Linked DNA regions of Homo sapiens. The protein of the gene in region 1 purifies or fractionates together with the protein of each later gene. This does not show direct contact. Each region holds a gene or a part of one and is shown on either strand. Other genes may lie near its edges.

Region 1 (15,164 bases):
AGACAGAGAGAGAGAAAGAGAGAGAGAGAGAGGTAGATTACTGGGTACCAGAGTTCCCACTGTGCAGGAAAAGACATATAAATAGGGAATGGGGGAAGGCAGGGAAAAATCCTCTGAGGATATATTGCAATTGGAGGTGGAGGTACTGGTATGAACTAATGATTTTAGAAATACGTACATGAGCACGTATATAAGCATGTTTATGCGTACATGGATATTATGTATGTATGATGTGTATACACATATTTGTATGTGTGTGTAAATAAATGTATATGTATCTGTTTCCTGGCTTTGTCTGAGAGGGTAGAAAACCAAAAGTCACCCTAAAGCCATGAGCACACTTAGTGCCTAGGCTGTCTTGGACTCTAACATGTTTCCCCACCAGGATAAACCAGGGCTCATCAAAGAAGTGGCACATTCTAGGATTGGGGCAGAATATGTACCAAATGAGCTTGGAACATCTTATGATGCCAGAAAGTTAAAAAAAAATGTAAGCATTGTCATAGGGACACAGGAGTCAGAGGGAAAGGGCTCTCGTCAGTGAAATCTGGGACAATTTGAGCACCAAAATAGTTAAGTACAGTAATGAATTGTAAGCCACTGGAAAAAAAAGGAATGCCTGAGTCCACTCCAATCATAAATGGATAATGAGAGAGAAGGAAGGCTCTTGCAAATATCCTCTCTCTCTATCTATATGTTGAATAAATGAATGCTATTCATGATATATTTGGGAAAGGACAGGGATGATGGAATTACCAGAGATTTTTTATTGTCTCCATTATTCTTTTATGTGTTTTCAAATACTCCACCATAAATTTAATAATGGGATTTTTTAGTTTGAAAAGTTACAAAGTAGTAGTATGTACCATCCCATAGGGAAAAGATTGGAAGGATACACACACACACACACACACACACACACACACACACACACACAGAGGGTTATCTGTGTGGGGTGCTGTGGGTGATTCTTTTATTTTTTTTCTTTATTAGTGTTTTACCCTGCAGCTCCAGCTCAAAGGATGTATATAATACTAATAATTTGCAACAAGAAATGAAGTTATTTATTTATTTATTTATTTATTTTTTGAGACAGAGTTTCGCTCTTGTTGCCCAAGCTGGAGTGCAATGGCTTGATCTTGGCTCATTGCAACCTCCGCCTCCAGGGTTCAAGTGATTCTCCTGCCTCAGCCTCCCAAATAGCTGGGACTACAGGCAAGCGCCACCATGCCCAGCTAATTTTGTATTTTTAGTAGAGACGGGGTTTCACCATGTTGCTTAGGCTGGTCTTGAAATCCTGACCTCACGTGATCCTCCCACCTCGCCCTCCCAAAGTGCTGGGATAACAGGCGTGAGCCACCGCACCTGGCCAGAAGTTACCTTTTAAAAAAGCATTGAAATTAAAACATAAATTAAGAAATAAGATACAAGGTGCTTGAACATGGTAAGTATCAAACAAATGTTAAAAAAAATTTACTAAGGCTATGTCATGACAAAAGCAGAATTCAAAAAAGTATATATAAGCGGTACAATAATTAACTTTTTGGAAAAAATCTCCACCCTTGTGTTGAGGGTAGTGCTCCAAAATGATATTGTAGTTGTGTCTGAGTGTATTTATTACTTTAAAAGAGGAAACTGTATGGTAGATATAATGTTTTATAAGCTTGCATTTTGAACATCTTTCACACATTGAATTGTCTTTCATAAAAGAGCTAGAATAAGAGGTTGAGGTGGGCAGATCACCTGAGGTCAGGAGTTCAAGACCAGCCTGGCTAACATGGCGAAACTCTGTCTCTACTGAAAATACAAATTGTAGCCTGGTGCAGTGGTACACACCTGTAATCCCAGCTACTCGGGAGGCTGAGGCAGGAGAATCACTTGAACCCAGGAGGCGGAGGTTGTAGTGAGCTGAGATTGCGCCACTGCACTCCAGCCTGGGTGACAGAGCAAGACTGTCTAAAAAAAAAAAAAAAGAGCTAGAATAAGCTAGAATAAGGGGACCACCACTGAAGCACTTGGGAGCATTTTCAACCTACGCAGAGGGGTGGTCACCCTGTACTACTTCTCTTTTAATTTCATTACTCAGATAATTGCACTGGGCAGCATCTTCTAGGGAGGCAATTTTCTGGCCAAATAATTAAAAGAAGTAAGAGCCATTTAGTACTTTCCCTAGAAAGTTATCTTTTGGGAGATGGGAGAGGCCCTTGATTATTTTTAAAGAGGAACACACACACACACACACACACACACACACACACACACACTCTTAAAGAGCCATAGACTATCTCTTAAGAATATACAAGAAACTGGTAACAGGGGTTTCTTCTAAGGGAGGGGGACTTGGGGACTTAGGGAATATGATTGGGAGGAAAACTTGTTTTTTTCTGTATACATTTTCATGCTGTTCAAATTAAAATAATGATGTGCATTTAGTATATGTTCAAAATATTTATTAATTAAAAACAATTCTTTAAAAAAGTCTGTTGCTTATGGAACAACTGTGAAAATAACTAGATCGGAGGAAAGTAAAATGTGTTTTCTTATGAAAATATGCTTGCCATTAAACTGATTAGTTTCCATCACAGATAGATTTGTAAGTGACTCAAACCAAGACTTTCCAACATTTGTCTGCCCCACCTACATGTCTGTGCTTCTGTCTACTCTGCTGTTCTCTTTGTTTATAGATAGACAGCTCTTGAGCTACCATTACTGGGGAGTTACTTTTGTTTCTCTAACAGCAGGGATGGATTTGGGCTAACCCCTTCCACTGGTTCTTCAGGGCTCCTTGTACCCAGGGAAGTGGCTGGATGGAATGTGAGTAACCATCACTGCCCACCAACACCGGGAAGTGAAAACTGGACCCAAAGGACCCACAATCTTCACCTCATTAGCATCGTGCTCACATCATGTCTCTCTCAGTAAGTAACAGGTTCCGGTGAGGCAGAAACAATCTAACTGATTGGATGCCTCAAATCTGTACAGAAGCCAGAGAGCCCACCTATCGTAGGAATGTATTTGAGAGGGTGAACTATTCTGAAACATTCCATCTTTATATTGACATCCACATAACCACTCTGCAGCTAAAGGTATATCCAAGCACCCAGCTTCCCATGCCAGAAGCAAGGAGCCTGTTCCATTTCCATTTTCACTCTCCACCATGTCTACTCGACTTTAGAAATAGCTCTCAAATTTTGCCACCCATTTTCTCCACCTTTGCTGACAATGACATATAATCAGACCCTCAGAATCTATTGCCACTTCTAGCTAGTCCCTTGCGACTTTTCCTCCCATTATCTTCCTCTCCAGCATGCTTTCAAAAGCACAAATCTGACCATTTCATTCCACAACAGGTCACAACTTCCTTTGGGCTGCACCAACACACCAGGTCCTTTGTCATCTCCTTTCAGTCTCCTTTCCAGTTTTCCTGGCTGCTCCCACAGAACTTTATTTCTACCCAGATCAGAGACTTTGTCGGTATTTATTTTCCTGCATGCTTCCTCCCTGTGAGCTCCTTCAGGATACAATAAACACCTCATTCCTCTTTCGTGCCCCTGTACTCAGCCTAGTGCCTGGCACATAGGAGGCACCCGATCAGTGTTTGGGCGAATGAAGGAAAACAGACCTTTTGAGTGATGTAACATGGCCATCAGTGGTGCTTCTCAGACTTTAATGGACACAAGAATTTCCTGGGGGTCTTGCTGAAATGCAGATTCAGGTTCAGTAGGTGTGGGGTGGAACCTGAGGGTCTACAGTTCTTACAAGTTCCCAGGTGAGGTCGATGTTGCTGTTTAGGGAGCCACACTTTGAGTAGTGAGGACCTATAGAACATTAATAACTTTTTTAGATGGAGGAGCATGTTGAATCAATTATTCCTCTAAGGATCTTGAAGTTTTGAGTGAACTTTTGATTTCAAAAAGATCAAAAGAAGTAAAAGATTTTATAAACACACACAAACACACAGTTATACAGAGTAAGCTACAGAGCTATAGGTTATTCCAGAAGTAAGTAGGAAAAGGGAGTAAAAATAAGAGTCATCTACCCTTAAATTCTCAATACCATTATTCTAATTTGCCACTTGAATTTATATTAGAATCACCGGGGAAACTTTTTAAGCAGCACATATTCTCCCCCCTTCTCTCCCTCCAATCTGATTTGCTCTTCTAGAGGAATAGGACACCCTCAGTCCATGGCTCCCTACCACTGAAAACCACAGCTTTGGAGAATGCTTTTGTAATTGATGGCAATGTTTTGTGTCACTCAGCTGTGCTGGGAAAGAAACAAGCTTTTAGCTTCATAGTAATTCTGATCTAAGAGCTCTTCTACAAAAGGAGTTTAGCCAGGGCCCCCACGCATGCTGTTGTTCCCTCTTCCTGGAAACTTCTTCCTCCATTTCTGTCCCAAGTCCTACTCATCCTCCAGATCTTCAAAATTGTCCCTTCATCACACCTTAAACTCCTCCTTCCTGGAAAACACACACACACACACACACACACACACACACACACACACAAAAAAACATGTAAAGTTATTTGTTCTCTTCCCTGCTAGACTGTGAGTTCCAAAGAAAAATTGTGTTGTACATTCCATTCCCGGTCCTGAGCACGGAACTTGCTACAGCAGGTGCTCAAATGAGTGAAAAAATTAACTCTTTTTTCCATATTTAATGAAATTCCCTCTTTTACTTATTTTATCCTCCCGTCCAAAAATGGCTGAATGTAATTCCTATGAGAGCTGATATTTAGTATGGGGCTAGAACCTGCTTAAATGACAATAGAGTATGTCTTGAGGTTTGTTTGGTCTGAATTGCTTGGGTTGAGGAATCAGACAAAAACAATGTTTCTACCTCCTCAATGTTAAAAATAAATAATAATCACTGCCTACCAAACAATATGTATCATATATGTAAGATATGAAGCACAAAAACAAAATGAACATCTATGAGTCCACCACTCAATAAAAGAACTAGAACATTAGTTGCCTTGTGAAGCTACAGGGTGTTCTTGCCTCTTATCTCCCTGCCTTCCCCTATCCTCTAAATTTATGTTTATTACTCATTTTTTTAAAAATAGTTTTTATATATCATGATTTATTTATGCATTCCTTGTCAGTGAACGTTTAGGCTTTTTCAGTTTTTCTGCTCTTAGGAACAATGCTGCCAAGAACAGTCTTTGCATGTCTCTAAGAGCATTTATGAATTTACCTATAATATATGCCAAAGGGTAGAATTGCTAGATATATGTAGGTCCAGGTTGAGAAGATGATGCCAAGTCATTGACACTATGTTTTTGTAGTGAAGGTGCCAATTTACTTTCGTTTCCACCAGTAGTGGCTAAGAGTTCCTAATGACCCATATCCTTGCTAACAGCTTGTCTTACTAGAACACAAGCAATGGAATCTCAAGCTGCAGCACTTTGGGGCCAGAAGGCAGAGCTCCTGCCTGGATAGGTTATTTCCTCCTGACCACCTGACAAGGGACTGGCCCCCTGAGGCTTACACTTTGTTGAGACCTGAAACTGCAGACAGAGCACTAAACTTAGAAGAGACTAGGGCCCCAACTAAGCTTCCCCATGGATAGATACATAGTCATCATAGAAGGCAATCAATCATAGAATGTGACACCTGGAAGGGACCCTAAAGCCAAATCCTTCATTCTACATTTATTGAGACTGAGGCCCAGAAAGGTTAAATTACTTGACAATGTCTAAGAGCTAATTACTACAGAAATCTTCCTCTGGGGCACTTTATTCTTAATCCAGAGAGGGTTTTCTTTTTTTTTTTTTTGTAACTGAAGATGGTGTAATACGATCCATTACATTAATAATGACTGTAAATATTCAAATAACTGACTAGTTTATTTAATTAATTAATTTATTTTGAGCTGGAGTCTCGCTGTCGCCCAGGCTGGAGTGCAGTGGTGTGATCTAGGCTCACTGCAACCTCCGCCTCCCAGGTTCAAGTGATTCCCCTACCTCAGCCTCCCGAGTAGCTGGGACTACAGGTGCAGGCCACCACACCCGGCTAATATTTTTTTTTTGTATTTTAGTACAGACAGGGTTTCACCCTGTTGGCCAGGATGGTCTCGATCTCCTGACCTTGTGATCTGCCCGCCTCGGCCTCCCAAAGTGCTGGGACTACAGGCGTGAGCCACCGTGCCTGGCCGACCAGTTTATTTAAAAAAAAAACTTGTTTAACTTAAGTGGCATGAATTTGATAACTTTCATTTCTTTGGTTATAAAGACGGGTGATATTATTCGATGGGATAAAGAAACCAAAATTATAGTTTCAATATGCAAATTTAACTCTCCTAAGAGACACTGGTCTCCTGGGGGATAAACAGTCCCCAATTATCTGATTGATCATTCTTGTCCTTGGATCATTCCCCATACCCACCAGGCAAATACTAGGTGCCTCCTTAAAAAGCCATTTTTGTAAGGAAAACTTTAAATTCATTAAATTTAAAATCATCTTCCCCTTAGGAGCACTCATAATTAGGCTATACTAAGACTCTGGGAACGATCTATGGAGATATGGCAAACTAGCCTCCGTGACTTGACGGTTTCTAATCCACATGCGAATGTGGAAAAATGCCAAAAAGAGACCAATCTTCAGCAGAGGTACTTAGCGCTCTCCAGAGTATGCATAATAACCGAGTGTGGTATATAAGTCTAGGGCAGAGGCATCTGTCTCCATCCATCAGACAGTAAATGTGGAGCTGGGGAGGAAAAGGAGTGCTTCCTAACAGGATGGGTGTTGGTGTGAACAAAGGGGGCTTTTGAAGCCTGTAGTGGAAATTTTCCTTCTGGAGCTGTGTCCTTCAGGAATTCTCTTCCTCCCTATCCCTTCCCATCTGCCTGGTCCTCTCTACACCAAGTCCTCTTTTACCATTTAAACAAATCTTTTGGTTTAACAACGTCTGCAGGCAGATGCTAAAAGCTTTCTGTGAGGCAGCCCTTTTTTAATGTCAGGATGAAACTCAGGAGCTGTTTATTACTCTGGGGTGGGGGGCTTGGAGGGAAAGAACACCAAGTAATTTTGTGCAGGAATGCTGACCAAACAGTACTGAGGTACTTCTGGTTCCAGTTTTCCTCCTAGCAGTCATTTTAATCAGCACTTCCCCCTTTTAATGAGCTGGTAGTGCCATTACATAATCACCCAGCTCACTGGATTAATGATGAAAAGAGGAACTGATTTTTCCAGTTGCATCATTTGAAGTAAATGTTAACTTTCTTTCTGAGTCCTTAGTTAACCGCATTAGTGTGACAAATATGTCTTTGTCTAGCATAAGTAATTAGAATTTAATCACTTTAACTGCATCTTAATTACCCCAAATGAATTGAAAGGACATTTAATAGCAAAGATTAAATTGCCTTAATGAACGATTTTTGTGACTCCATCAATACTCGAATCGCTTTAGCCACTCCTCTCACGCACTTCAGTCGCAGAATCTGCAGCGAGCACAGAGGTCACTAGGTGGCGCGCTTCGCTCGTTTGTTTATTTAATTTTCCCCATTGATCTGTTTTAGAAGACAACAGGAAAGAAAGCAAAAAGCACATAGTTTATTGCGTTCCTTCGATAACCTCTCTTTGGGACTATGAGATCATCACCAGATGTGAAAACGAAAGCAGTGATTTCAGAAACCGTCGATTCTGAATATCCCGTGGCGGCATATGCAAAGGAAGATGAGAAACACATGGTGACTGGAAACATGCAGTGTTTGACAGAAATTGCAAGATGCCCTCTAGACAACTCCCAGCCTATATACTCTGTTTTGGTCAATTTATTACTTTTTAGTGCAGAGCCCTAAAATTTGAGTTACAGGCAATCTTTGAAATAGCAAGGCAGGCACTGATGTGGAGCCAAGAAGTGTAATTGCTGTCCAAGTGCAGATCAGAATGCCAATGCCTGAAGGTATGGGAAGATCTGAGCCCTTGGGCCCCCCTCAAGGCAAGGGACCGAATGGACCAGCCCCACCCACAGGCACATCTAATGAGATAGGTCTTGTCCATCAATAATTGTTTAAGTGAACAAAGGGATGGGAGGCTGGGGTTTCACATCTACTTCTGGCACTTCCTCACATTTTCTGGCTGCTTCTTCAAAAAAGAGTAATAAAAAATCTCTTTTACAAGTCTTGAGTATAAAAGAAATAAGTTTTCATAAGTGACTCTTTTTGAGAGTCCCAAAGGAAAGACACACTTTCTCTAATTTCAAGAGCTTATTATGTAGAGACTTTTGAATCAGTTATTTCCACATTCTGACTCCACTAACCTGGTGCACCTGTCCTGGCAACAGAAGCATGGGATGGAGGATAAAATGTTCTGGGCTTTGGACTGGGAAAGCTGAGCTCAGGGCATCACTGTTTTCCAGTGGTGTTATCACAAGTAAATTATTTAACCTCACTGAAGAGAGCAACAGGGAAAAAAGTGGTAAATACCACTTAGACTAATGGTTCCCAAACTTGGCTGCACATCAAAATCACCTGGGAGTTTATAAAAATCCAATGCCCATGTCACGTCCTGTACCAATTACATCAAAATATCTGAAGCTGCAGCTAGGCATCAGTTTTTTTAAAGGTCTCTAAGTGATTCCAATGTATAGCAAGATTTGGGAACCACTGGTATAAATGTTGAGTCTTCAATGAGAACATCTATGTTCCGATCACAGTACCCAACAAATAGAATGTGCACAAAAAACTTAAGCTTCTTCCTTATCAGTTACTATGACAAATGAGATTGGTTGTACTTTAGGGTCTAGTTCTGTCCAGCTGTTGTCTTATTAAATTGCCTCATCTAAAAGAGAAGAAAATTTCTTTTTTTCTTCAACTTTTATTTTGAGTTCCAGGGTACATGTGCAGGATGTGCAGGTTTTTTACACACGTAAACATGTGCCGTGGTGGTTTGCTGCACAGATCAACCCATCATCTTGGTACTAAGCCCAGCATCTATTAGCTATTAAGAAAAGAAAATTTCTAGAAATTAATTTGTTACAATTTTATGATACCGTAACATCTCTTGGAAGAGACATATGTGGATGCTTCTATAGCAAGACCCTGTGATAAGTAATTTTTATGTTTGTATCAAAATAATCAGATTGTCTTGTGATTGGTCTAGTCACCTAGCCCAATCTTATTATCTCAGGAGGAAATTAAACTTCGTTAGTATTAACATACTTGTATTAAAATAAGAACCTATACAAACCTATTGATAGAAGGTAGGAATTTATGATTGTGCACTAAATCCATTCACATAAGAAATATTTTTCTTTTTACTGGACTCTATGAGACTGACATTTTTTATGTAGAAATAATGTGGCTTTCTTCTCCCAAAGATGCTTATCCATCTTATTCAAATAGAGACACAATGAGAGTATTATTTAATAAATATTTGTTAAATGTTTTCTCCAGCATTATAAGAAATGCACCCTCTAACAACCACAACTTCAGTAACACCTTCCTTCTGTTGCTACCCTAGGTTGGGGGCCATTCAATTTTACCAAGAGTGTGGAAATTCTGCTGTTTTAATGGGGACTGAAAGGAAACTAGTCATTTCTCATTCAAACCATCAAGGCTCCTAGATTGATTTAAAATATTAAGTCGGTGTTTAAATATTCCAATAAATGGACTTTACAAAGAGCACAAGCAATGTCACTTGAGGAACAAGGCCTCAAGCTGAGGAGCAGGATATTGGAGAGCCTCCTTCTTAATTACCCACCTTTATTAGACTTGAGGATTTTCTGTCTTACAAGAAAATCAGAAATAAATTTTATTGGTATGCTCTGTAAGAACGATTTCTTCTGATAACTTGGGGTAGCAGCATTTGTTTGATTAGCTGAATTTGCCATGAATGTGGAAATAATGACATCAAAACAGCTCGTGTAACAACCTCCTTAAAGACCTCGTAGATTAGAGATGACTATAGATTTTCCCCAGCGCGGATCAAAGGGACTGAATTGAACGTTTTAGCTTAATGATCCAACCCCTGTCACACCCACAGGGACGCGAATTCCGATTTTATAAGCAGGTGTGCACGTGCACTCAGATACTCACACAAAGCCGCGTGGAGGGACGAAAAGATCAACCACCCGATCGACGAGGATAGGTTTGATCTTTTCGATTACCTCAGTGTGCCAGTGTATATTCCCGGCTGGGCCTAGCGCCCTAAGAAACTTCGGAACTTTAGCTGTTAATTTTTGTTTTCTTACTATGACTTCCCAAAGACATTCTATCTGCCTACCGGGGCGAAGAGAAATGGGACCAGGCGTCAGGGCGGTGGGACCCTGTCCAGGGTCCTGACTCCGCGCCAGGGCTCCAGACCAGTCGGCCTCCGAAGGCCCTTTCACCCACCCCACACAAGAGGAAACAAAGACTTCTCAGCTCAAGGCCTCAGGGCTGCCTCCTGACTCCGGTCAGTTTGCAGGAAGAGGAAACAACAAAACAAAGGAACCGCCAATCCGCCGGGTATTATATCCCTCAGCTCCAACCTCCGACTTCGGACCGCCAGGGTCACCTTCTCTACGCTGACCCCGCTTTTCTTAAATGAAAACACGCCAACAAAAGCATACTTCGGATACAAAATCCAAGTACGCATCTTTTTTGGGGAGGTTAGAGCTGAGGTGTACTTCGGAAGATGAGAATTTTGTTTTCATGAATTGGGTAACACCCAGGCATTGTTAGGTACCCCGACAGACCCTCTAGATATCCTTCTCTTCCTCCTTCACACTTTCTTCCTATCAAAATAGTTATTGTTTTGAAATTCACTAGAACAACGACGTTCTAAAAACAAAGGCGCAGCAAGCATCCCTTTCTTCGCTGCCGCGGGCTGAACCACGGACGCTCGCGGGTCGCCCAGCCCCGACGGCCCGCAGGGGGCGCGCGCCGCAGCCGCAGCACAGCCCGGCTACCCCCAGAAAGGGAGCCGAATGGAGGGAAGCAGGGAGCGCGGAGGGCTCGAGGCTTGCAGATAAGGAGAGGCGCATCCTGGGATTTGGGTCCTCTGCTGCTACAACACAACCGTGCTATTGTTGGCACTGTCCGACCCAAGTGTCGGTGGTAAGCGGCGATGTCGGGGCTGGGTCTCTAGCAACCGCTGTGCCCTGGGTCAGGCTGGTCGCCCCAGCTACCGGGATCCCTCTCCGGATGCTTCCAGGGCGATAGGTGCTGCACCCATTGACGGGATAGCCGCATACCTCCGAACAGGTAGTGGAGTTCGTCTCTGGCAGGCATCCTAGCTGCGCTGACACCAAGGTCGCCACACAATAGCCATCAGCCCCCCTTAAGCCCCAGAAGTAGGTTTCCCCTGCCCCAGCCATAGCGGTTCCAGTCGTCGCCACGAGCCCACTTCTTATCCCCAAGCGCACCTCCCTCTCCTCACCCGGGTTTATGCCCGTTACACAGAGAGAACTACACAGGGGGAACTATGGTCCTACACCCTCGAGGGGACAGACACCGGCCGTGAGACAGGCACCACGCAGAGCCTTCTGGTGACTGTCCGCAGGAGCGAGACCTTTTTTGGTTTTGCAGTCGGCTAGGTGTGTGTGTGTGAGGGTCCCCAGTTGACTACCGGGATGCACTGCCACTTTTCGGCCTGGCGGGCTCTGGGACTCCTTGGTCTCCGTAGGAGGCCATCCTAGGCCTTCGGAGGAGGCGCTCCCAGCTGGCGGCGCCCCTCGCCCCGGGCTCAGAGGCGGACACGGTCGGTCGCGCCCTGCTGGCCCTTTGTTCGCGCCGCAGCGGGCTGGGAGCAGCTGCGCGACACCAGACCCACAGCGCCAAGACGCGAAGCGCGAGGAAACCGCTGCGCTTGACTCCTTCTCCCCCAACTCTTGGACCCAGGAACGCTTCCAGCTCCTGCGTCCCACACGCCCAGTCCTGGCTTCTCTCCCGGCCCAGAAGTCTTCAAGGATTGAAGGGCTCTGCCTAGGGCCCCGCACTCCTGCCTGACTCCCATGGCCCAGAAAAGCAGGGGGACATTTGAAATGTCACCCCGGGATAAATATTAACAAAAAAGCAAATGGACTTGTGCAGGGGCCAGTTATCAATCAACCAGGCCGCAAGGCCACTCAGGGCAAACACAGCCCAGGTTGGGCTGGGCGAGACTTTCTCATGGCCGCCCCCCGACCGAACCCCTCCCCCCTTGGCTCAGGTCCTTCTTAGGTCGTTCTGGGGCAAACACCGGACGGGAAGGGGGCGCCGCCAACTCCCCCGCGGGGTTTGGAGGTTTCCTCGCCTCCAAGTCCCGCAGGGCAGGGTCGGAGTGCCCAACACCCACCCCCGCCCGAACCTCGGGCCTGCGCGCCGCCTTCCCCTGGGTCCGCGGTGCTGCGCTTGCTGTTGGGTGTGTGTCGCTGTCTCTTTCCGAGCCGGCAGCTCCTGCTGTGTGGCCGAAGCCCTCTGGAATCTTTAATTGGAAACTAATCTTGGTCTTGATAGACGCCCACGTCAGAGGCGCGCCACCCACCCACACCCCCCGCCTCATCCCGGAGGAGACGCGGCGAGAACCCTGTCGCTCTGCTCTTTAATGGGGCAGCAGCAAGTAGTACATGGAGGGAACATATATTGATTTTTAAAAGGTAGTTAATTTGGTGGGAATTTCCTCCTGTCGCCCTTCTTCCACCAGCCGCTGTTATTTCGTGACCGGAAGGCGCCTCCCCAAACACAGCGCCACGTGCAAGAGGGTTTTGACCCTCTGCAACAGGCTGCCGGCAACTGGAGGACAGAGGGGCGTGGAGAAGCCACCACTCTCCCGCTGCGGAGCGAAGGAACCGAGCTCAGTGAGCCCTGACCTCGCAAGGTGGTTGGAACGAGACTGGGGAGGGTCTCTGAGCGCAACAGCAAGGAAAGCTGCCAGGGGCACCTCCCCATATGGGAGCTGGTAGTGGGGGGCAGGCACTAATGTCCCGTAGGAACGGCCAAGGCGCTCTGCAATCCATTTTAAGGCTCATGCACTTGGCCCGTTAGAGATCATTTGGAAAGTTCAGAAAATAACCCCACTCTTTTTAAAATATGAAAATGTTAATGAGATGGCTCCTTCTTCAGTAACTTAAAAATAGGTTGTGAAGAGACTGTTCCTGGTTCCTTGCAGGAGACCCTCCTGGACCAACACAGAATCCTCAGTCCTAGCCCTTTCCACCATCCCTTTTAAGTTAAGGAAACAAAAATGTAATAGACATGCTTCCTCAGGGTCTCAGGACACAGAGTCGGCTTGGTGTTTGGTGCCAAATGCCTGCCCTGCTGGACTCTCCAGTGTTTCACTTTTTCGAGGAAAAGGCCATGGGCCTAGGGCCGAGGGCTGCATGGACCTCTACAGGTTGCTGGGTGCCCAGGCAGGCGCTCCTTCGATAGCCTCCTGGGTGCCACAAGCACCTGCCAGGCACCATGTTTGCGCCTCCAGCGTGCGGGTCCCAGCACTCAGGCTCCCTCCCCCTCCACAGTGCCGTCCCCTGAGCTCGGCTATGTAGCTCTCCACGCTTGGAGGTCAGAGGGCGCTCCTGCGGCCAGGTTTCCATGGCTCAGAGGTCGTCTCTGAACAGAACGTGTCAGTCTGTCCTTCCAGGGGGCGACAGCAGGCAGTGGGGGGAGGAGGGATATTGAAGTCCAGAGCAAGAGCCTCCAGGGGGCGGGGGTGGGGGATGGGGACCGAGTTTTCCCGGAGGGGTAGCCTTCTCCATTTCTATCTTCTTCCCACATTCCCCCGCTCCACTCTTTGGCTTCAGCGGGCACTGCCTGGGTAAGAGGCCCTGAAGCCTGGCTCTGGGGTGGTGTGGGTGTGTGAAAAGGCACTACCTTGGGCTCTGGAGAGACGGAGCAGTCAGGACGAGGAGCAGCCCCTTCGCCCACTCCCTCCGGAACCTCAGTTGCTCGCGGGCAGCCCACGGGTGGAGATATGGTGCCGGTAGCACAAGAGCTAGAGAGTGGAAAACCGGGGGCCAGCGATTCGCTGGGGCGCCCAGCGAGCCTCTTCTCCCCTGACTGGTTCCCGGGCGCAGGCTGCAGGAACCTGCATGAGGACTTTGCCTGGGGCGAACGAAGGCAGAGCTGGGCTGGAAAACCTGGCAGGGCAGAGTCTCAGCCAGCGCGGTGCTTTGGGACCGGTGGCCTGCAGCGCCCAAACCCAAAGAACGCTTTGGGTCGCTTCGGGGCACGAATCGCAGGCTGGTCGGCACCTGCCACCCCCAGCTTCTCATTGGCAGGCACGAGTTGGAGGAGGGGGCTTTGGCCTCACGCTTTGATTTTAGACTGTGAAACGGCTCAGTGCCCCCGGCTCAGAGCGGATTGACTGTCTCTCGTTCTCCAGGGACGAATTAATGGAGAACGATCAGTTAATTAACAAACCCTCATTCCGGCTTTTACCTTTTCTCTTCGCCAAGGCTCAGGCCTGGGCGCTGGGCTGAGATGGAGGTGGAGGTGGGGGGTGGGGGAGTGGGGGGGGAGGGGGCATGGACCAGGAGTCAATCAACTTGGCAACCGCCGGCCGGATCTCATCAAACCCAGGCCACCCTCCGCTGTCCTTAGCTCTACCTCCCCTCATGTTCTCTACCCTCAAGGGTCGCCGAATCCTCCTGAAATCCCCGGTGGGGTTCGGGCTGGGCTCAGCTTTCTTCTCTGCCTATCCGCGGTCTCGGGGAGCCAGGCGCGGTGTCTGCGCTGCGCCAAGGAGAGCTTCCAGCTGAACTCAGAAACACCTGGGGCTTGGGGTTTCGGGCAGGAGACCTCTGCTCCTAGACTTGGGGGTCATTTACACACTCTCATCCCCAAACCCCCCTCCCGCACGGGGATTCAGACGAAAATCGCGAAGAGGAATAATAAAACAAAATGCAAAGTCCTCAGGGAGTCGGCAGCGGAGTCGGTCCCAGGACATGGCTATTGCTTTGCAGCTCTCACTGGGACCTTGGGACGGTCAGCCTCCCTCTCCTTTCCACAGCCAATTCCATGCGCAGAGAGCGTCCTAACCCTTACAACTCGTCTGTGCTACACACCCACCGCCCAATGGCTCTGAAACTTTTTGCCCATACTCTTAGATTGAGGTCACCCCAGCCAGCGCCAAAAGAATGAGCGCGGGAGGGGGTCACAGCAGCCAGTTCGGCCAAACATCGACGCTGCTCCGGCACGCTCCAGCCCAGCGCCTGGGATGTGTCAGAGGTACCTGCGAGGAACATTTGCGTGCGATTC
Region 2 (15,164 bases), on another chromosome or scaffold:
GTCAAAAACCAACAGATGCTGGTAAAGTTGTGGAGAAAAAGGAACACTTTTACACTGTTGGAGGGAGTGTAAATTAGTTTAACCATTGTGGAAGACAGTGTGGCGATTCCTCAAAGATCTAGAGACAGAAATACCATTTGACGCAGCAATCCCGTTACTGGGTATATACCCAAAGGAATATAAATCATTCCATTATAAAGATACATGAACATGTATGTTCATTGCTGCACTATTCACAATAGCAAAGACATGAAATCCACCTAAATATCCATCAATGATAAACTGGATAAAGAAAATGTGGTACATATACACCATAGAATACTATGCAGCCATTAAAAGGAACAAGATCATGTCCTTTGCAGGGATGTGGATGTATCTGGAAGCTGTTATCCTCAGCAAACTAATGCAGGAACAGAAAACCAAATACCACATGTTCTCACTTCTAACAGGGAGAAAGAATAGCTAATGGATGCTGGGCTCAGTGTCTAGGTTATAGAATGGTCTGTACGGTAAACCACCATGGCACATGCTTTACCTATGTAACAAACCTGCACATCCTGCACATGTATCCCTGAACTTAAAATAAAAGTTGAAGAAAAAAAAAAGGTTAATATCCAAAATATAAAAATAACAAACAATAACAAGAAAACAAAAAACCTAATTTTAAAAATGGGCAAGGAACGTGTATAGACATTTCTCAAAAGAAGACATACAAAATGGCCAACAGAGATAGTAAAAAATGCTCAACATGACTAATCATTAGGGAAATATGCTCAGATTTGATACCAAAGCCTGAACCTTAGAAGATATTAATGGGCTGGGTGCAGTGGCTCAAGCCTGCTATCCCAGCACTTTGGGAGGCCGAGGTGGGCGGATCATGAGGTCAGGAGATCGAGACCATCCTGGCCAACATGGTGAAACCCCGTCTATGCTAAAAAAAAAATACAAAAATACAAAAATTATCTGGGCTTGGTGGCACGTGCCTGTAATCCCAGCTACTCAGGAGGCTGAGGCAGGAGAATCACTTGAACCAAGGACTCAGAGGTTACAGTGAGCCAAGGTCGCGCCACTGTACTCCAGCCTGGCAACAGAGATTGACTCATCACAAAAAAAAAAAGAAAAAAAAAAAGAAATATTAATGATAAGCTGAACTCCAATCACCCTATGAAAGATCCCACAAAACTATTGAGATACTAATTCACATTCACTAGGATAGCAAAAATCTAAAAAGACTAGAATAAGTATAGCTACGATGTAGAGAATTGGAACCCTCATGCATTGCTGTGGTATTGTAATATGGTACGGCTGATTTGGAAAACAATTTAGTATTTCCTCAAAACGATAAACACAAAGGTACTAGTAATACATGACCCAGCAATTCCACTCCTAGGTATATACCCAAAAGAAATGAAGATATATATCCACACAAAAACTTGTTCCACACAAAATGTTCATAGTAACATTCATAAGAGCCAAAAAGTCAAATACAAATGTTTGTTAACTAATTAATGAATAAACAAAGTCTAACGTACCCATACAATGGAATGTTACTTAGCCAAAAATGGAATGAAGTATTGATTCATGCTACAAATTGAATGTAACTTAAAATTGTTAGGCAAAGTGAAAGAATCATGTTTCAAAAGGCCACATGTTATATGATGCCATTTATATGAAATGTCCAGAATGCGCAAGTTCACAGAGACAGACAACAGAATATTTATTTCTATGAGTTGGGGAAGAGAGGCATGGGGAGTGATTGTTAATGAGTATAGAATTTCTTTTGGGGTGTTATAAATGTTCTAAAATTAGACAGTGGAGGTGTCTACACAACTCTGTGAATACACTAAAACCAATGAATTGTACTTTAAATATGCAGATTTTATGGTATTAAATTATATCTTTTAAAAATTATTATATATGTTCTAAAAAGACTAATAACAAAATTAAAAGAAACCACAGACTATGAGGAAATGTCCACGTATCATATATTTGATAAATTAAGGACTTGTAAGCCAGAGATTATTAAGAACTCATTTAACTCAATAAAATGAGAAGACAAGACAGACAACCCAAATTAAAAATGAGCAAATGATTTGTATACATTTCACCAAACAAAGTCAAACAAATGGCCAATAAGCACATAAAAAAAGCTCAACCTAATTAGATATTATGGAAATGCAAATTAAAACCACCATGAGATGCCACTTTGTACCTACAAAAATGGCTATAATCATAAAGACACAATCCTGGATGTTGGTGAGGATTTGAAGACACTAGTTTTAAACATTCCTGGTGGGAATATAAAATGTCACGTTGGAAAACAGTTTGACTGTTTCTTACAAAGCTAACTATTGATTTTTCATATGGCCCAGCAATTTCTAGCCTAGGAATCTCCCCAACAGAAATGAAAACATATGTGAACACAAAGATCTTTATTTACATGTTCAGAGCAACATTATTCCTAACAGCCAAGAAGTGGGAACAATCCAAATGTCCCTCAACTGGTGAACCTAGAAATAAAATAGGTCTTTTCCATGCAATGGAATAGTATTCGGCAATAAAAAAATTAAGTATCAATACATACTACAACAGATGAACCTCAAGAACACCATGCTAAGTGCAAGACGCCAGACACAAAATACTACATGTATTATGATTCCATTTATATAAGATGTAGAAAGAAAAACTTATAAAGACAGAAAACAACTCAGTGGTGCCTAGGATTGGGAATATTAATAGACATGAGGAAACTTCTTAGGGTCATGGAAATATTCTAAAACTGGATTGTGGCGATGCATAACGCTAGAAATTTACTAAAAGTCAATGAATTATAAAATTACAGTGTGTACATTTTACGGCATGTAAATTGTAGTTTGACAAAGCTGTTAAAAATAAGCCAGTTATGTGATCTTGTTAAAAACTGGAGGAAAAAAATGAAACAAGCCAATAATTAAGAGCATTAGGTATAGATTCAGAGCTTTCCAAAAAGCATCTTCAGAAAATATCATTTGGTAATACTCGTACCTCACTCAAAAAAAAAAAAAAACCAGAAAAATGTAAATGGAGAAAAAAAGGGAAACTTTTCTAAAAGTTAGTCCAAATATTTACCTTACAAAGTCTAAAAAGGTGATAGAGGAGGAATACTGATCAACTACATCATTTATCTTCTCAAATACCACATTTATTACACAATATCAAAATGCTTATGCATCTAACAATGGATAATGTTAGAATGGAAGATGAAAATACGGGCATCCTCTCCATCTGGTATATTGTTTTATTTTGTCCTGGCATTTGAGTTTTAATTTATGTTTTGCTACTGTATTCCCAAATTCTCTTTCCTATGTGTGATTTGCCACAATATCTGTTGGGGAATAGTAACATGAGCTGAGTAAACTATTGTTTTATTTTACTTGCGTATTATAACATGTCAAAATACCAGAATTAGAGAGACCCCCCAAAATTACTAGTTCGTACTCTTTACTGGAGAGACTTTCTCTCCTTTCGTGTGCACAAAACTACAAGATACCAATTTACTTTCAAAGGAAACCAAAGGGAGATTATCAATGAGGTTTGGTTTGACTCACCTTACGCATGGCACAAAGAAAAGGACATTTCACTTTCGAGGATGGTTATAAACACACACATTATTGGAGTCATTAAATCATTGATTTGATGGCCAAGACTGGAAATGCAAGTGAGACAACATTTAAAAGAATGGACGATTTTCATAATCATATGAGTAACACTGGTAGTTGTTTTTTGCTAAAAGCAGCAATGCCATGGCAACGATCATCTTAAGGAGAAGAAAATCTGCCGAAGAAGAGGATGCTGTTGGATTCATTGTGCCTGATGAAGAACAGGAAGGGATGATTGCAGTGAACATTTTCATGACCTGGGGCGGATGTGACAGTAAAGCCTATGCCGGTGGCAGCTGCAGCCTCGGTGCCTTCCTCAGTTACTGCCACAAAGGAACTGTGCAGGAACTTCTGGGCGTACAACCCGGAGCCTGACGACATTCCCGAGTAGTCGGCTTTGTGCTCACTGAAGGCATCGCCCATCCCCATGGCAGCCAGGACCGCCTCTAGATCGTAACCGTCCTCCACCTCAAACCGGGGCAAGTGCAGATTCACCTTTCTTTCTTCCATATGCCCTGGACTAGTCCACTCTACCAATTTCTCAGGACTTATTTTATCTATTATCTATTTTCAAAAAAAGAAGAGTAGAATGGCATGATTATCAATAAAAATCTAAAACAGTGTAACACTGATTTGTGTCAGTCAGAAGTTATTAATTTTAGTAATATTAAAAGTAGAAATTTTATTTCACTAGATTGTTGTCTTTATACTGCAGGCGGTTGTCTTATATCTCTCTGTTTAAATTATCTGTGTATATGTGGAAATCCAATAGCATTGAATACATTTTTAAAGATTAAAAATAAGTCATTTCTTATTTTATCAACCTAGTATATATTTCATTTTAACTATCTCTCCTAGTCTTTGAATGCATATATATTTACATAGTTGCAATCACAGTGAATGTCCATTTTATTTGATAAAAAGTAAACTTTTTCACAATATTGCATATCTCTCCTATCTTCAAACAGCTAGATAATATTCTTATGAAGTTGATAAATTTTTCCCAATATTTAGCTATTCATTCACTTTACAAACATTTAGTCTTTATCAGGCATTGTGATAGATTTGATAGTTACTAAGGATACAAAATAATAATTACGATGAATTTCAAACTGGGCATTCCAGTGTATTTAATACCGAAATAACTGATTTTACTCAGAAAGGCAACTTTTTTCTTCTGCATTATTTCTTTAGAGTAATTCCCACAACTGGGGTTTTTGAATCAGAAATACTCTTAAAGCTCTCAGACATATTGCTATTTTGCTGTCTCAAAATATTTTCCAACTTAAAATGCTACTAGCAATATTTCACAGAAGTAGCACAGCATCTGGTAGTATAAGACGATAGCAGTTATCATTTGAGTGCTTTCTATGTCCTAGACCCCTTCTAGGCTACGTTTCTCTAATCATTCCAACACTGCTGCACGTTAACCACCATGGAGCCCTCTTCAGAGATGGGAAAGTATTGAAGTTCAAGGAAGTTAAGAAGCTTCAAGGGTCAGAAAGCCACTAGAGGAACAGGGATTTGAAACAAAACTCTCCTCATTTTCAAAATACAGGACACTAGCCACAATTTATTTATTTATTTATTTATTTATTTATTTATTTATTTATTTATTTAATTTTGAGACAGAGTCTCGTTCTGTCACCCAGGCGGAGTGCAGTGGCGCTATCTCGGCTCACTGCAAGCTCCACCTCCCAGGTTCACGCCATTCTCCTGTCTCAGCCTCCCGAGTAGCTGGGACTACAGGCGCCCACAACCACGCCAGGCTAATTTTTTGTATTTTTAGTAGAGACGGGGTTTCACCGTGTTAGCCAGGATGGTCTCGATCTCCTGACCTCGTGATCCGCCCGCCTCAGCCTCCTAAAGTGCTGGGATTACAGGCGTGAGCCACCACGCCCGGCCTTCACATAATTTTTTTAACCACAGAATGGATGAGACTAAATCAATGGTGTAAGAGTGTAAGAAAGAAATTCAAAAGCTCCAAAAGCCTATTGAACAGTGTGCAGAACTGGTTGTATATATGCATATGTGATTTCTTTTTTCCAGGAAAGGGGTCCATAGATACCAACCATTTCTCAGAATGGTGGGTGATCGTTAGGACTCCCATATAATCTTAAATGTTCATTTTAGTTCATCCCAAACATTCTAGGATTAGTTGTTCTCAATAAACCTGACCCATACTATTTAATGCTCCCCAGTAGACATCCATCTGTAGCTGCTGGAGAGTGAGAAACACTTTCTATTTGACACTGCTGGCCACCAGCTCCTACTCAGAAGCCCTGAGACAAAAAGCCTTAGGAAATGAAAGAAAGAATAAGGAGGTGTAAGCGTTTACCTTCTCCAGGCCATCGATGTCGTTGGGCAGAAGCACAAACATGCTTAGGTCGTTGTTTTTATATGGAATCCCTAGAATTTTGGCCTGCAAGTCCTCCAGGAAAGTGAAGCTAAAGGAATGGCTCTGTGTCATCATCTGTACAGATTTACTTGTGCTCTGCAACAAATTAACAGAGCACACAATATCAAAGGACATAAGACCAAAGGCATTAAGGCAACCAAGTTAGTTCATCAAAATAATTAGCTCAATCTAAAATAAAACCCAATATCAGAGTCTCAGAATGAGCATCCACTATCTACCAGTATGCATTTGCTCAAATATGACTTTAGATTTTTTTGGGGGGGTGGGGGATGGAGTCTCACTCTGTCACCAGGCTGGAGTGCAGTGGCATGATCTTGGCTCACTGCAACCTCTGCCTCCCGGGTTCAAGCAATTGTCCTGCCTCAGCCTCCCAAGTAGCTGGGACTACCGGCGTGCACCACCACACCCAGCTAATTTTTATGTTTTTAGTAGATACGGGGTTTCACCATGTTGGCAAGGATAGTCTCGATCCCTTGATCTCATGATCCACCCACCTTGGCCTCCCAAAGTGCTGGGATTACAGGTGTCAGCCACCACGCCCAGCCATGACTTTAGACTTTACATTCCATGTGTAAGCACATCACGAAAATAAACTAAGGGCCATACCTTATTCATCCAAAATTTCTCTTCCTTAGTATTTTCTTTCTTAAACTCCCTGTCCCATTGCCCTTTAAAATAAACCATGTTCACCAGCACCAGCTTGGTAGAGCTACTAATAGAGCCATCTGGGAACAAGTCCTTGATTTTTTCTGCAAATGAAGAAACAGAAAAAGGTTGACCCATCTTCCAAATGACAAATAATATGTATGACAAATATGATGCAGATGGACTTGACTGATCATTAAAAACCCAGCCAGGTCAGCACCTGAGGGCCTTGCTGACAAAGGGTTTGCTGGCAGAATCGACGGGGAGGTTCTCATTTTGCCCATCGCCTATTTATCCCAGTGGATAAATTAAGGTTCATGGTTAAGAGTCCAGACTCTGGGGTCAGATGCCTCTGTTAGCATCCAGTTTGCCTCTTATCAGCTGAGGAATCTTGGGCAAGTTATTTAAACTCTCTGTGCCTCAGTTTCCACATCTGTAAAATAGGAATAAAATCTGCCTCATAGGGTTGTTGAAAGGAACAAATGATTTAACACATGTAAAGCTATTAGAATACCATCTCACACATAATAAGCACTCTGTGTTAGCTATTATGCTTACCATTCAATATAGTTACCACCTGAGATTAAGGGATTACTTATTATATTGGAGAAGGAGTTGATATTTTTGTCTCTGAGTTCACCCCATCCCACAATAAATTCTAAAAAATACTGTTCAACTTTTTGAAAGATCCTATTTTTTCTGTTTCTTTTATTTCCTTTCTTCAGACCAAGCATGAGGGGAAAAAAAAAACACATTCTGAATAACAAAGTTCTCTCTGATAATTGGTATAAAAATGGAATCTGAAACTCTAACACTAAAGTATCAGCTATTGCTCCCCAAGGTGAATTTCCACATTAACATTTCTCTGTGGATTTCCCATACCAGGGGATGAGAAAGGAATAATGGGATAAGAAACTTGTCAAATCCTCTGCTGTGGGGAGAGCTGTAGGTTGTCGTTACCCCTGCACTATGCTTAAGTGAAGATGAAGACTAGGTGGCCCCAGCTGTGGATGGGAACGACAAGTCTTGATGGGAGAGCTGCGTGTTTCTCATTTAACACAGACAGAGAAAAACTCAGGAAGAAAGGCTCTGATATAAAGGAAAGAATGTAAACCCAAGACAGGCATCATCCTATTTTCAGGACCCCCAAGATATTGTGATCCATGGCTATGTGTAAACAGTTCTCCAGCAAGCGTTTCCGTGCATTTGGCTTCATGCAGTCCCCTCACTGGCTCCCCTTGGCCGCTCCACATTTGCTGAAATTGCTCCACCATCTGCAGTGCCTTCCCTACCTCCTAGGCCTGGGCTTGCCCTTCCAACCCTGCAAAACCTATCTCAAGTCCCTTCCCAAAGCTTGTGCACTGCATGGCACCCCACGCAGTGACAAGTCCAGGGCTTCATTCACAGCAGGTTGTCAAGAAGTGTTTTTTGTTTGTTTGTTTCTTTGTTTTTGTTTTTTTGCAATGAATGACCCACCCATACTCTACCATTTGTTTTGCTTTCAACCCAGGAATTAATCTTCTTTCGACTTTCATCGGCTGCATTTACAAAATCAACAGGTTCCAGAGATGCATGATAATATTTTTCAACATAATCTAAGTATTTCTTTAGGAGAAACAAGGAAGGAATAAAAAGAGGTTAAAAACTCAATTTATCAATTGCCAACATCTCTAAATAAATTTATGTATACATTAGGATGACTAATACAGTAAGAGAAATTTTAAGGCCCTGGGCATCTCACATTGAGTTCCTGCTGCACATTTTTATGCAGCTATTCTGGGGATGAGGCAAAAATCAGGTTCAGATTGCCAGGACTAAAAAGGAACTCCCTGCAGTTCTGAATATCTGTAGATCAGGATGGAAAAGCACCACAGGGATGTGGCCAGAGCCAGGCAGCACGACTTCAGGACCCATAGTCCTACCAGGGCCATTTGGCCATTCCAGAATACCACTCACAGATATGGTAGGCATGGCAAACTTACTTGAAGGAAGAGGTATGTTTTTTCTCCAAACAGCCTGTTGGTTATGTTCAGTTCATAATCATTAGTGAGTTTGCTTATTTCAGTCAAAAACTTTTGGAATTGTTGATGTACTGCTTCTGTGTTCTCAATCTTGAAAATTAAAACAAAATCTCAACAGGTTATCTTGGCAAAAGCAAGCCCAGATTCTCCCCTAAGAGGATGCGGCTGCTGGGTCTCTCCCTCCGTTTGTCAGCCTCAAGGGTGATCCCTGTGTTTGATGTGGCCCCTGGATATCAGGTAGCCTTTACCCAAGTCATATGATAATGTCAGTTATGACCAATCTCAGCTCCAGAGAGAAGCCTTCTCTGCCAGCCCAACACCACAGATCTTGCATTTATAACTCAAGTTGTGGGCTTTTTTGGTCTCAAATAAAAGTGCTCACTAAATGTTCAATAAGCTTGTTTTTAGCTCCCCACAAGATTCTAAGCATCTAAGGAAAGTAAGTGATTTCTCCGGACGATTCTTATCTATTGAAGTTTGGAAATTTTTCCAGATAGTGAATAAGAAGAGTGACTCCTAATGGTATGAGTCACTACACATTGGGCTGAAGTGAGATTTATCCTTGTCTCCAGGGGAAAAAAAAAATTTTCTGAATATTTTATGTAGGACCCATCAGTTTTCTGATTGAAGTTTTCATATTCTATGTTACCTTAACGACATATCTAGAATGTCATTATTTCAACATATAAATACAATAAATATTAATTACATATTAATATATAAGATACATATTTCAGCAAAAATAATACATGAAAATTAATATTTTGTATTCCTTTCTCATACTAAGTTCTTAAAATATAATATGCATTTTATACCTATAGCACATCTGGATTCAAACTAGATGTATTGCAAGTGTTCAATAGCCACTTGAGTAGCTACTATACTGGATAGCTTGGGACTGGATAAACTCTCACCCAGGCAAATTAGGAGGCTGGCATTAAAAAGGCCATTTTTGCATTGTTTGTAGAAGGAAGGAAGGAAGGAAAGAAAAAAGGAAGGAAGGAGGGAAGGAAGGAAGGAAGGAAGGAAAGAAAAAAGGAAGGAAGGAGGGAAGGAAGGAAGGAAGGAAGGCCGGCCCCATCAACAAAATAAATGAGGAAATAGCTATAAAAATGAATCAAATAGAGCTATAAGTATCCCCTTAAAATAGATGAATCTTATAAACATGATGCTAAGCCAAAAATAATCAAGTTCCAAAGAAGAATGACAAAAATATATGGCATGTAATGAAATAATAAATACGTGGGAATAATGAACACCTAATCCACAATAGTGGGACTTCCTCTCTGAGGAGAGGATGGGGGCGTGCTCAAGGAAGGTGTTATACATCAGCCTAAGGGGCATCAGCTGATTTGGTAATAGTTTATTTTGTACACTTAAAGGAGGGGTTAAAGTGTGTTTATTGCATTTTTCCTTATACCTTTTGTACATATGTCTTGAGATTTTATCAGCATTTTTTAAAAGCAAGATTCAAAATACTCTGAATTTACATAATAATCAAACGGGTACATGCCAAGCCAGTCTCTGGGCAAACTATTAAATGAGGAGATTGGAGTAGATGACCTCTAAGATGTATTCCAGTGCTAATATCCTTTCAGTCAGTAATTCTATTCTCTTCATACCCCTGTGGCTCCCAGGAAAATTCTGGGGAATGGGCAAAACTGCTAGACAGCATGTATGTGTAAGCTTTGCCTTACACAAAGCTGAAATTCAGTTTCCACCCCAGTCATCTAGCCCTTCACATAGGAGTAGGGCAGCTATCCAAAAGAATGAGCTGTTTTCTAATTTGCACAAAGGTTCTACATGGGCTATCATGGCTGAGAAAGAATGTGCTCTGAAGACAACTGCACTTCTCAGTTGAGGGAACATTGCAGTGGCCATATGACCCAACTTGGTTGCGCAAACCCTGAAAGGAAGCCTGACCCTCCACAGGAGCAACTGAGCCACCCACACGACCTAGCCTTTTGGGGTTGTGAAATGAGCAGCTCCTATTGCTGGGTGATCTGAGCCATGGTTTTATGAGGGTCTGGAATTGCACTATGACTACTGTCAGAGCAGCTGTGCCCTTCCTGAGAGTGCTAACGTCTGATCCTAGCCCCGACCTAATGGGCTTATTCCTTTCCCATATTTGAGTAGACTCTCCTTTGGATGGCGAATACAGGAACACTGGAGCTGGAAAAGACCTCAGGAAGTCATTGGGCCTGTAATAATTTTTTAAATACAACATCAGCACGGGGTTAAAAATATGAGTGGAGTTTAGCAATAATATCACCTACTGCTACTACCACCACCACCACTGGCTCAGTTGCCAGATGCCCCTACTGCGGACTTTACAGAGGCTGAAAGAAGATAAATAACTTGCCCAAAGTAGCATCGCTCTTAAGTGACTGAGCCAGGACTTGGACCTAAGTCTGTTTAACTCCAAAACCCATCCACTCTGCTATGGGAACTTTTCTGTCTATTAGCCTTTACCAGTTCTATCATAGCGGTATTGTCCATTACACCTAAGGTCTCTTCTCAATATTAAGGGGTTATTATTATTGTATAATCCTTACAACAATATTTGTCTATGGTGATTATTATTGCTTAATAGTAAAGCAACAATATTGCTTTCATGCCTTTCTCAGTCCTTTTCCCCAGAGACCCCACACCTAAAATGCAACTCTACTGAAGTTTGTAAAACACATCTCCCCACCTCTTTTCCTTCAGCCTTTATTCTTACCACCTCTTTTTCTTCAGCCTTTATTCTTGAGCTCTTCGTCTCTTTTTCAGAGTGAAACACCTGGAAGAGATAGAAAATATTACTGTGGTGCTCAGAGAAGAGAAAACCTCACACAGAATCAGTCAGGGGAGAGTGGACGCTTCTGAAAGAAACCTCGGTGGTATATGAGGTGACATTATCTCCTTGCAAAATCAGAAAAAGGTCTGCGTTTACCTCTGATTTTTCGTGTGTGTGTGTGTGTGTGTGTGTGTGTGTGTGTGTGTGATGGAGTTTTGCTCTTTTGGCCAGGTTGGAGTGAAGTGGCATGATCTTGGCTCACTGAAACCTCTGTTCCTGGATTCAAGCGATTCTTCTGCCTCAGCCTTCCGAGTAGCTGGGATTATAAGCACCTGCCACCACACCCAGCTAAGCTCATGCCTGTAATCCCAGCACTTTGGGAGGCCAAGGCGTGTGGATCACCTGAGGTCAGGAGTTCAAGACTAGCCTGGCCAACATGGTGAATCCCCTTCTTTACTAAAAATACCTCTAATTTTTTTCTAAGGAACTCGTATTGGCTTATGTGTTCCTGTGTTCATCTTGGATGTGTCATTTTTACCCTTGTGGGGATTATGTCACTTTTTCCATAAGTACTTGGACAAGGTTACGCAACCAGTCTCTACTCAAAAAAATTTCAAGCATCTGGGAGCAGGTGGCGAGATGGTATTTGGAAAAGGAAGAGGGCTTTCCTGATAGACCTGAAATTGCTCCTTGTCTTGAAAGTCTCTGTTTCCTGGTCCACAGGTCAAGAAGAGCGTATTTTTAAGATAATGCAAGAGGGCTGACAACCCCCCCGCCAAATGAATTTGTGCATAGGAAACAAGGAAGCCCCCTGACTGCGCCCAACCTCCTCCAACTGGGAAGCGGTGGCTCCTCGGGTCCCCAGGAGGACCATGCCAATTGCAGTCAAGATGCCCACAGGGGAAAAGAAGATGTTGCCATCATTTGTTTTCTTCAGCTCTTTGAAAAGATCAAACCCAAGTCGAGTGCTGACGGCGCCAAGTGAATCCATGATGATTTTAGCGAGACCTAGAATAGCAAGAACAACAATCAAAACTGAACATTTGAATTACTCTGTGTCAGGGGAATCCTTTCTGCTTCTATTCCTCTTCTTGCATCGATCCGGAATACAGGGATTTCCACCCTTTTGGTGAAAGGTCGCTGCTGCCTGCTTCTCACGTCCTCTCTTGGCCTTCTCTTGCTGGGAGACATCCATCAATCTACTGGAGTCTTCCGTCATCCGGTGGTGCTCAGTTCTTATTTCCCCGCGGAGCAGGGTTAATGTTTTAATGGCTTTATTCTCTTGCTCTCTGTCTGACCCTGCCTGTCTCTGCCTCTCCACAGCCTCCTCTTCATGGAAGCTTCCCCAGGTAGACCCAGCCCTTGTCCAGGCGACACCAGTTTGTCCAGATGTGGGGCCCATGATAAGGCAGGGGGGTAGGCACAAGAATCTCCACGGGCCTCAAGTTCAAACAGTGCTCTCAGATCCAACCTTAGCAATAATTAAGCCGAGACTTGAATCCTTATCTGATACTATTTCTCAATTGATTCAAAATTCAGCCCAGAGAGTGACAGGATTGATTAAATCTCTTAAACCCCTTTCCCTAACTGCATACAAACTTGACTCTGGGCTGAATTTTTCTGAAGCAGAAACCACATATCTCTGGTCATGAATTATTAGGTGGAGATGAAAGGGTTTTCTTTTTTATACTTTTCTGTATTGTTTTAGGCTTGTACATGAGCTTGCATTACTTTTGTCATTTCACAAAAATAGTTTTTAAAGAGCAATTAATATTTGCCAAAAATAAATAGGTAGAACTGTTTTTATGTTTGCTTCATTACCAACTACTTTAAAACTAGTAAGTAAAGGCTTTAGGAGGAATCCTAAAACAAGAATAAGATTAATGAAAAATAAAGTTTTTTAAAGCCCACATACTTTGGGGCCTTTTGCCCTCAAGGGCTCATCCCCGCTAAGGCATCCCACATCTGATATCAAAGCTTTCATTTCAACCTCAGGTTTCCTTGCAGAGATCCTTTACAGGTTAACTCAGAAATAAAATGGATTAATTTACTGTCAAAGAAGATACATTGTCATGGCCATGTTGGAACTGAATTAAATAAAACTACCTCCAGAAAGTCTATGCAAAATAAAAGTAATTCTTTCAAACAACAAACATCATTGTTCTCAAAATACAGAGGTCTTAAATTGGAGCCAAAATAAGAACTTACCTCGGGTTTTTGGAGAGACGGTGGTGGCTGGGCAACGAACTAGGAAGCATAAGTCAATTAAGTAGCTGGGATCCTTAATTTATAGTTCTCCACATCTGCTTCAGCAGTGGTTTTCCACCTTGCGTGCACCTTAAAATCTCCTTGGAACTTTAAAAAAAATCTATGCCCAAGCCCCACCCCAGACCAACTGAGTCAGCATCTCTCGAGTGGAAACCAGGCATCAGAATTTTTATCACCGCAGGTGATTACAATGTACAGCCAACGCTGGGAACCAAAGGTGTATAGCCTGATGAACACATACATTAAATGCATACTTTACTTACCACAGATGGACAGAGCTGTGTCCTGACAAGTCATTCTCTGTAACAGAGTTATTTTTGCATTTGCATTATTTAGGAGTGCCAAATGCCAGGAAGAAAATGAAAGAAAACTATCTTGCTACAAAGGAACAAGAAAAAAGAACAAGAAAAGTTTGGGTAGGCAGCCACACACAAGCGAGCATGCGCACACACACACACGCACACACACATACACACACACACCTATTATTCTCAAGTATTCCATCCATTAATTGTAAAATATCTCATTTTAATTCATTCAATAAACATTTATCAAGTCTATTATGTACCAGGTACTGTGTCTAATGCCAATAATTCATAAGCACTCAATATCCTCACTGATTTCAGGAAAACAACACTACCAAAAAAACTCAATAGGAAATTACACCCCCAGATTCCAGTTTTTCCTGCCAACCCTGGAGCATTTCTACTGGCCCTACCAGTTCATTAAAAGAAACTGTGCTTGGATTAGTCTTAGCTTTAATCTTCAGTAAAGGGCGTGGAGATTTGCCATCGTTGCTGGGCAGCAGCTCCTAGAAGGGTGTCTTAGCTCTTCCTTCTGCCTAGAGGAACACCTCCCTAGATACGCAGGCTCGAAGGGCATATGGGTCATGTGTGTTCCAATCTCCATACTCACAATTTACTTTTTTCAAAATATTTTGATTGCTGCTCTTTAAGCAAACTCAAAGCCACATTTAGTTGATTTGCTTTTTAATAGGCACTGAGAATCTTGCAAATTGAGTAAGGTTTAGAAAGAATTAACACTTAGTGAACCCTGGATGCCAGTGAAATGGAAATGTTAGTTTTTTAAAATGGCATAAAATCTCTGAGTCGGCCATAATGCTTTATGTTTTAATATCCCTATCCATTTATATCTTCTTATTTCTTTCTCTGTGGCCCCTAGACTTCCTGTTCTATTGCCCAGCCATTTCCACAGGCCTTCTGCTTTTTGCTAAAGCTTTTGCTCTACCACCTGCTTTCACCGGGAAACCTGGCATGTCCTGAGGACTACTACATCCCATAGTCTTTTCTGGGAACGGCCACTCATATCTTGGGAAAGCAAAGTCACCATTCCTATTCTCCCTCGCACTCCCTCTTCTTCCAAGTCTTTCTTCC

Evidence for each region.
Region 2: the proteins of ONECUT1 (region 1) and SERPINB13 purify together in Homo sapiens (affinity purification with mass spectrometry; 2 studies listed by BioGRID and IntAct, with this or other methods). This does not show direct contact.

Annotation. Positions count from the first base shown.
Region 1 is NC_000015.10:52,773,229-52,788,392, forward strand, and holds part of ONECUT1 (hepatocyte nuclear factor 6), read right to left. Parts: intron 7,657-15,164; exon of another isoform or gene 7,368-7,656; intron 1-7,367. UniProt on the Homo sapiens protein: Transcriptional activator. Binds the consensus sequence 5'-DHWATTGAYTWWD-3' on a variety of gene promoters such as those of HNF3B and TTR. Important for liver genes transcription.
Region 2 is NC_000018.10:63,585,997-63,601,160, reverse strand, and holds SERPINB13 (serpin B13), read right to left. Parts: upstream 13,819-15,164; 5' UTR 13,711-13,818; intron 12,511-13,710; 5' UTR 12,494-12,510; coding exon 12,329-12,493; intron 11,506-12,328; coding exon 11,446-11,505; coding exon of another isoform or gene 11,419-11,445; intron 8,814-11,418; coding exon 8,685-8,813; intron 8,308-8,684; coding exon 8,190-8,307; intron 7,136-8,189; exon of another isoform or gene 6,987-7,135; coding exon of another isoform or gene 6,923-6,986; intron 6,807-6,922; coding exon 6,664-6,806; intron 6,133-6,663; coding exon 5,977-6,132; intron 4,203-5,976; coding exon 3,798-4,202; 3' UTR 1,969-3,797; downstream 1-1,968. UniProt on the Homo sapiens protein: May play a role in the proliferation or differentiation of keratinocytes.